Linked DNA regions of Homo sapiens. The protein of the gene in region 2 purifies or fractionates together with the protein of the main gene of each other region. This does not show direct contact. Each region holds a gene or a part of one and is shown on either strand. Other genes may lie near its edges. The genes, in order: TAF5 and SUPV3L1.

Region 1 (3,941 bases), about 34 Mb from region 2:
TATTTTAAAAATGTCTGGTACATGTTTCCAATAAATATAGGAAATCATTAAAAATGATGGGTTTTATGAGAATGTTATATATTGATTATTGTTGAGATGCTGAGTACTGTGTACATTGAGTTCATTATACTCTTTTTTATGCCTTTGAAATTTTCATAATAAAACTTTTAAAAGTGGGTTTTGAGAAACCATAACATTTAGTAAAGCAAGGGTTCTTATATTTTCAAATGTCTACCAGTTTCTTTTAAATGTCTCCATTCTAAAGAAACTGTCTACCAATGGTGGGTATATTATTTTTCACTTAGGATATTTAAGTTCTTTTCTTAAAATGTTTGTGATACATTTCATTAGAGAATTACATTTGTTCATTTTTAGAATAAATTCAGAAACTGAATTATAGTCATTTTGAAATGAGTTACTTCTTATCCTACAGCTTAGTTCAGGATTATTTAGACTACTACATTGAAAATATTCTGGGATGGTTTATAAGTATATGGGGGAAAGGCAGATCCCTTAATGATTACATTGAAAAATGACTTTTTAAAATCACTGAAACAGGTTCCATGGAGATCAGGAATGTTATTACCAGGATGACCTACGAGTATTATCTAGTCTTACCAAAAAGGAACACATGAAAGGGAATGAGACCATGTTGGATTTTCGAACAAGTAAATTTGTTCTGCGTATTTCCCGTGACTCGTACCAACTCTTGAAGAGGCATCTTCAGGAGAAACAGAACAATCAGATATGGAACATAGTTCAGGAGCACCTCTACATTGACATCTTTGATGGGATGCCGCGTAGTAAGCAACAGATAGATGCGATGGTGGGAAGTTTGGCAGGAGAGGCTAAACGAGAGGCAAACAAATCAAAGGTATGGGAATGAACCTAAGAACTCTATAATGCAGATTATGAAAAATTGTAGCATTTCCATCTACATAAGTTACACATTTTTCTTATAGCTAGCTTGGAAACAATTTTTTTCGTTTGTTTGTTTTGAGACGGAGTTTTGCTCTTGTCACCCAAGCTGGAGTGCAGTGGCGTGATCTCAGCTCACTGCAACCTCCACCTCCTGGGTTCAAGTGATTCTCCTGCCTCAGCTTCCCGAGTAGCTGGGATTAGAGGCACACGCCACCAACCTGGCTAATTTTTGTATTTACTTTAGTAGAGACAGGGTTTCACCATGTTGGCCAGGCTGGTCTCGAACTCCTGACCTCAGATGATCCACCCGACTCCGCCTCCCAAAGTGCTGGCATAACAGGCGTGAGCTACTGCGCCTGGCCGCTTGGAAACAATTTTATACTGTATATAAAATTTTGTGTTCTAAGGGTGATGTTTATATGTGACAATTTGGGTATGGTTGCATTTTATGGAACCCTGAATGCAGTGGCTGAAACAAAGAATTTTTCTCCCATAAAATGAATTTCAGAGGAAGGCCTTCCAGGGCTGGCATGAAGGCTCCACAGTGCCATCAAGGTCCCTGGCTCCTTCTGGTTTCTGATCCACCATCTTCAGAATGTGGCTTTCCTCTTTGTGCTCACAAATGGCTGTTGCAGTTTCAGCATTGCAGCTCCGTTCCAAGAAGGAAGAAGGGGGAGGACAAAAGGCATATCTCTGCTGAAGCTTTCCCTTTTTAATCAGGAAAACAATATTTTTTTGATACAACCATACCCAGTATACTTATATGGACATTCCTAGCTGAAAGGGAGCCTGGGAACAGAAATGATTTAACTGAGCACATTGCTACTCCAATAAAATCAGGGTTCTGTTAGTAAGGAAAAAGGGGAGAATGGCTATTGGGTAGACAAATACAGAACCCTGCTTCAGAGTGTAAATTACTATTTTGTAATTGTGATTTATCCTATCAAGATGTAAAATGGGTATATTAATGAATAAATAATTTTAAAAATGTTGGCTCTTTTGACTTGTAGGTATTTTTTGGTTTATTAAAAGAACCAGAAATTGAGGTACCTTTGGATGACGAGGATGAAGAGGGAGAAAATGAAGAAGGAAAACCTAAAAAGAAGAAGCCTAAAAAAGATAGTATTGGATCCAAAAGCAAAAAACAAGATCCCAATGCTCCACCTCAGAACAGGTGAGGAAAAAACTTCAGGAACTTGTGTGTGGAGGTATAAGACAACATGTTATATAGAGTTCAAGTTTGTTAATAGTCAAAAGGTAATTTTGACTCTCTTTTTCTTTCACAGAATCCCTCTTCCTGAGTTGAAAGATTCAGATAAGTTGGATAAGATAATGAATATGAAAGAAACCACCAAACGAGTGCGCCTTGGGCCGGACTGCTTACCCTCCATTTGTTTCTATACATTTCTCAATGCTTACCAGGTTGGTAAAAAAATTGGGCGATTTCTGCCTGGAGAGTCATGTAGGATGATGATTTACCATTAAGAGAGAAACAAATGTATTAGCTAAAATGGAGTTTCGTTATTTAAACTCCTTTTTTTTTTTTTTCTGAGACAGAGTCTCGCTCTGTCGCCCAGCTGGAGTGCAGTGGCGCGATCTCAGCTCACTGCAATGTCCGCCTCCCAGGTTCATGCCATTCTTCTGCCTCAGCTTCCCCAGCAGCTGGGACTACAGGCGCATACCGCCATGCCCGGCTAATTTTTTGTATTTTTAGTAGAGATGGGGTTTCACCGTGTTAGCCAGGATGGTCTCGATCTCCTGACCTTGTGATCCGCCTGCCTCAGCCTCCCAAAGTGCTGGGATTACAGGCATGAGCCACCGCATGTGGCCCCTAAACTCTTATACAATTTAAAGACAGCATTCAGGAAGAGAGAATTGGATACTGCACAGAATAGATAGAAGTCAATGTTTAATGGCATTTGTTTCACCGATCAGAATTCTGCTAGCCTTTGAGGAGGAGCAAATTGTAGTTCATTTCTGTTGAACTTGGTTTAAGTACTTACGTAAACTTATTTATCAATTTTTTTTTTTTTTTGAGACAGAGTTTTGTGCTGTCACCTAGGGTGGAGTGCAGAGGTGAGATCTCAGCTCACTGCAACCTCTGCCTCCCGGGTTCAAACGATTCTTGTGCCTCAGCCTCGGCCTCCTGAATAGCTGGGATTACAGGCACCCTCCACCATGCCTGGCTAATTTTTGTATTTTTAGTAGAGACAGGATTTTGCCGTGTTGCCCAGGCTGGTCTTGAACTCCTGACCTCAAGTGATCTGGCCGCCTCAGCCTCCCAAAGTGCTGGGATTACAGGCGTGAGCCACCGTGCCCAGCCATATAAACCTTATTTTATTTTATTATTTTAATTTAATTTCATTTTTTGAGATGGAGTCTTGCTCTGACACCTAGGCTGGAGTGCGGTGGTGCAATTTTGGCTCACTGCAACCTCCGCCTCCCAGTTCAAGTGATTCTCCTGCCTCAGCCTCCTGAGTAGCTGGGATTATAGGCATGAGCCACCACGCCCAGCTAATTTTTGTATTTTCAGTAGAGAAGGGGTTTCACCAGGTTGACCAGGCTGGACTTGAATTCCTGAGCTCAGGCAATCCACCCGCCTCAGCCTCCTAAAGTGCTGTGATAACAGGCATGAACCCCCGCGCCCGGCCAAACTTAGTATTTTATTTTATTATTATTTTTTTTTTGAGATGGAGTCTCACTCTGTCGCCCAGGCTGGAGTGCAGTGGCACGATTTTGGCTCACTGCAACCTCTGCCTCCTGGGTTCAAGTGATTCTCTTGCGTCAGCCTCACAAGTAGATGGGATTACAGGTGCCCACCACCCTGCTTGGCTAATTTTGGTATTTTTAGTAGAGATGGGGTTTCACCATGTTGGCCAGGCTGGTCTTGAACTCCTAACCTCAGGTGATCCACCTGTCTCAGCCTCCCAAATTGTTGGGATTACAGGCATGAGCCAGTGCGCTTGGCCAATATTTTAAATCAAGAATTTTAAAAGTCTTTATATATTCCTTAAAATAGA
Region 2 (2,892 bases):
GGAGAATCACTTGAACCCAGGAGGCGGAGGTTGCAGTGAGCCAAGATCGTGCCATTGCACTCCAGCCTGGGTAACAGAGCGAGACTCCGTCTCAAAAAAATAAAAAATAAGGGAGGACATTAACAAGATAGAGAAACTTAAGCTCGTATTTGAGGTTATAGGACTATTACATATGAGATAGAAATAGGAGTCTTCAGGTACTGTCTGTCCATAGCTTTAGAACATCACATATTCCTAAATAAGAGTTAACAGACTTAGGCCCTGGAAAGTTAGTCCTTCTACAGCTTCTTTTTTTTTTTAACTGCTCCTTGTGGAGCAGGGATACCCTATAGGTAGTGTGCCCAGAGTAGCCCTTGAACTTCTGCTGCACATATTATTACCCTGGTTTTAGAAAAAGAAGGAAATCATCTTTTTTTGTTTTTTCTTTCTCCAAATGGTCTCACTGCTGGAGTGCAGTGGCACGATCATGGCGCACTGCAGCCTTGACCTCCCTGGGCTCAGTAATCCTCCACCTCAGCTTCCTGAGGAGTAGATGGAATCACAGGCACACACCACCATGCCCAGCTAATTCTTTGTGTTTTTTGTATGGATGGGGTTTCTCCATGTTGCCCCAGCTGGTCTCGAACTCCTGGGCTCAAGTGATCTACCCGCTTCAGACTCCCAGAGTGCTGGGATTATAGACGTGAGCCACTGTACCTGGCCTTATAAAGTATTAAATGTTCTTTAAAATGTAGAAGAGTATAAAGGAGAAAAGAAACCACCTGTCTATTGAAATACAACCACAATGTTTTGTTTTGCTTTCTTTTTTTTCTCTTTCTAATTATAGACTTAAGGGAATTCTGACACTTCTCTGAAACCCTTTTCCTCTTTCTCTCTCAGTTTGCCAGGCAGTATAGCAGGAATGAGCCCCTGACCTTTGCATGGTTACGCCGATACATCAAATGGCCTTTACTTCCACCTAAGAATATTAAAGACCTCATGGATCTTGAAGCTGTCCACGATGTCTTGGATCTTTACTTGTGGCTAAGGTACCAACATTTTTCCTTTATGTGCTCTCATTTTTCTAGTAGGACAAATTAAAGGTTTTATGAATTTGTTTTTCTATTTCAAATTATGGACATATTTGCAAGATGCTCTATATTATGTCTATTGTCCATAAAGGCAATTCAACTGATGGAATGGTTTCCCATTCCAAAAATGACTTGAGTTCTTGCAATTCTAGTTAAGATGGCTAGGTGAGAAGGAAGGTCCACTGGACTCCTGCTGGTCAAAGGATGGTCCTTGGACCAAAAGCATTGGTATCACCTGGGAGCTTGTTAGAACTAAGGAGTATCAGGCCCATGCCTGACTTGATCAGATTCTGCATTTTAACAAGATCCCTGGGTGATTCACTTGTACATTATCATTTGAGAAGTCCTGTTCTAGGCCAGTGATTCTCAAAGGAGGGGCATGTCCCTCTCCAGGAGTATATCAGAGTCTATTGAGGTATAGTGCTGACCCACCCTCAGGATGACATATTCCTCCGATATGTGGGGGCAGAAATCAAGGTTGAGCAAAGGCACTGAAGAGAGTTTGCAAAAAGAACATTTAGAATTTATCAATGTCATGATGTAGGTGTGCCATTGAGAGTTGTCCAGTGACTGCGATAAGAGCTGTTGCTATAATGCTAATGTGTCTTTTTCCCAGCTACCGATTTATGGATATGTTTCCAGATGCCAGCCTTATTCGAGATCTCCAGAAAGAACTAGATGGTATTATCCAAGATGGTGTGCACAATATCACTAAATTGATTAAAATGTCTGAGACGCATAAGCTGTTGAATTTGGAGGGCTTTCCATCAGGGAGCCAGTCACGATTGTCAGGAACCTTAAAGAGCCAAGCTAGAAGGACACGCGGCACCAAAGCTCTAGGGAGTAAAGCTACTGAGCCACCCAGCCCCGATGCAGGAGAGCTGTCCCTTGCTTCCAGATTGGTGCAGCAAGGACTCCTCACTCCAGACATGCTGAAACAGCTAGAAAAAGAGTGGATGACACAACAAACTGAACACAACAAAGAAAAAACAGAGTCTGGGACTCATCCAAAAGGGACGAGAAGAAAGAAGAAGGAACCTGATTCGGACTAGTTTTCTGTTCCTGTTTTTTTTTTTTTATTTAATTTTGCAAATAAAAATTTATTTTGAATCCTTTTTCCTCATATGCATTTACTCCCTCCTCTAGTATTGTGGCTATCTGGTACTGGGGGATTTTTGGTGTGTGTGTGTGTTTGTGTGTGTGTTTGTTTGTTTTTTCTTTTTTTGCACAGAAAAATCTCTCTTGATGACTAAACTTGTTTTTTTTTTTTTCAACATTTAGAAAATACTAGGATATCATGGAGGTTTAATTTAAGTCTTTATATAATGGCCATTTGTAGAATAGTACTAAGACAGTGCACTATAAGGAACTCTGCATGGGAATAAAATCACTTTGGTGAATTGTTTGACCAGTTTCCTATGCCATGCTGAGGATGTCATGGATGCAGTTCTTTGACAAACATTGCTGTCTGTTGTACCCATATACCAGAGGCTATTTAGGTGCTGGAAATATGCAGTAAGCAAGACTGACAATCTTCTACCCTCATGGATCTCATATTTGGTAGGAGAGACAGGAACAGGTTAACAAATAAATCCTGTCAGATCGGTGAGGGCAGAGATTGTAGTCTATTTCACTACTGCATCCACAGTATCTGGAATATAGCAGAAGCAAAATCATTCTTTGTGAGATGAATGGGTGTAATTTTAGAGATGAATGCTAGAAAGAATAAGGAAAGAGTGATGCTGAGTGGCAGGGAAGGGCTGTTTTAGGTAGGGTGGTCTTCCCTTGTCCAAAGGCCAGCCTACACTTGTTCAACGAAGTT

What was found.
Region 1: the proteins of SUPV3L1 (region 2) and TAF5 fractionate together in Homo sapiens (co-fractionation; one large-scale study listed by BioGRID). This does not show direct contact.

The regions. Positions count from the first base shown.
Region 1 is NC_000010.11:103,377,677-103,381,617, forward strand, and holds part of TAF5 (transcription initiation factor TFIID subunit 5), read left to right. Parts: intron 1-558; coding exon 559-874; intron 875-1,931; coding exon 1,932-2,095; intron 2,096-2,207; coding exon 2,208-2,343; intron 2,344-3,941. UniProt on the Homo sapiens protein: The TFIID basal transcription factor complex plays a major role in the initiation of RNA polymerase II (Pol II)-dependent transcription.
Region 2 is NC_000010.11:69,206,914-69,209,805, forward strand, and holds the end of SUPV3L1 (ATP-dependent RNA helicase SUPV3L1, mitochondrial), read left to right. Parts: intron 1-879; coding exon 880-1,028; intron 1,029-1,686; coding exon 1,687-2,122; 3' UTR 2,123-2,180; downstream 2,181-2,892. UniProt on the Homo sapiens protein: Major helicase player in mitochondrial RNA metabolism. Component of the mitochondrial degradosome (mtEXO) complex, that degrades 3' overhang double-stranded RNA with a 3'-to-5' directionality in an ATP-dependent manner.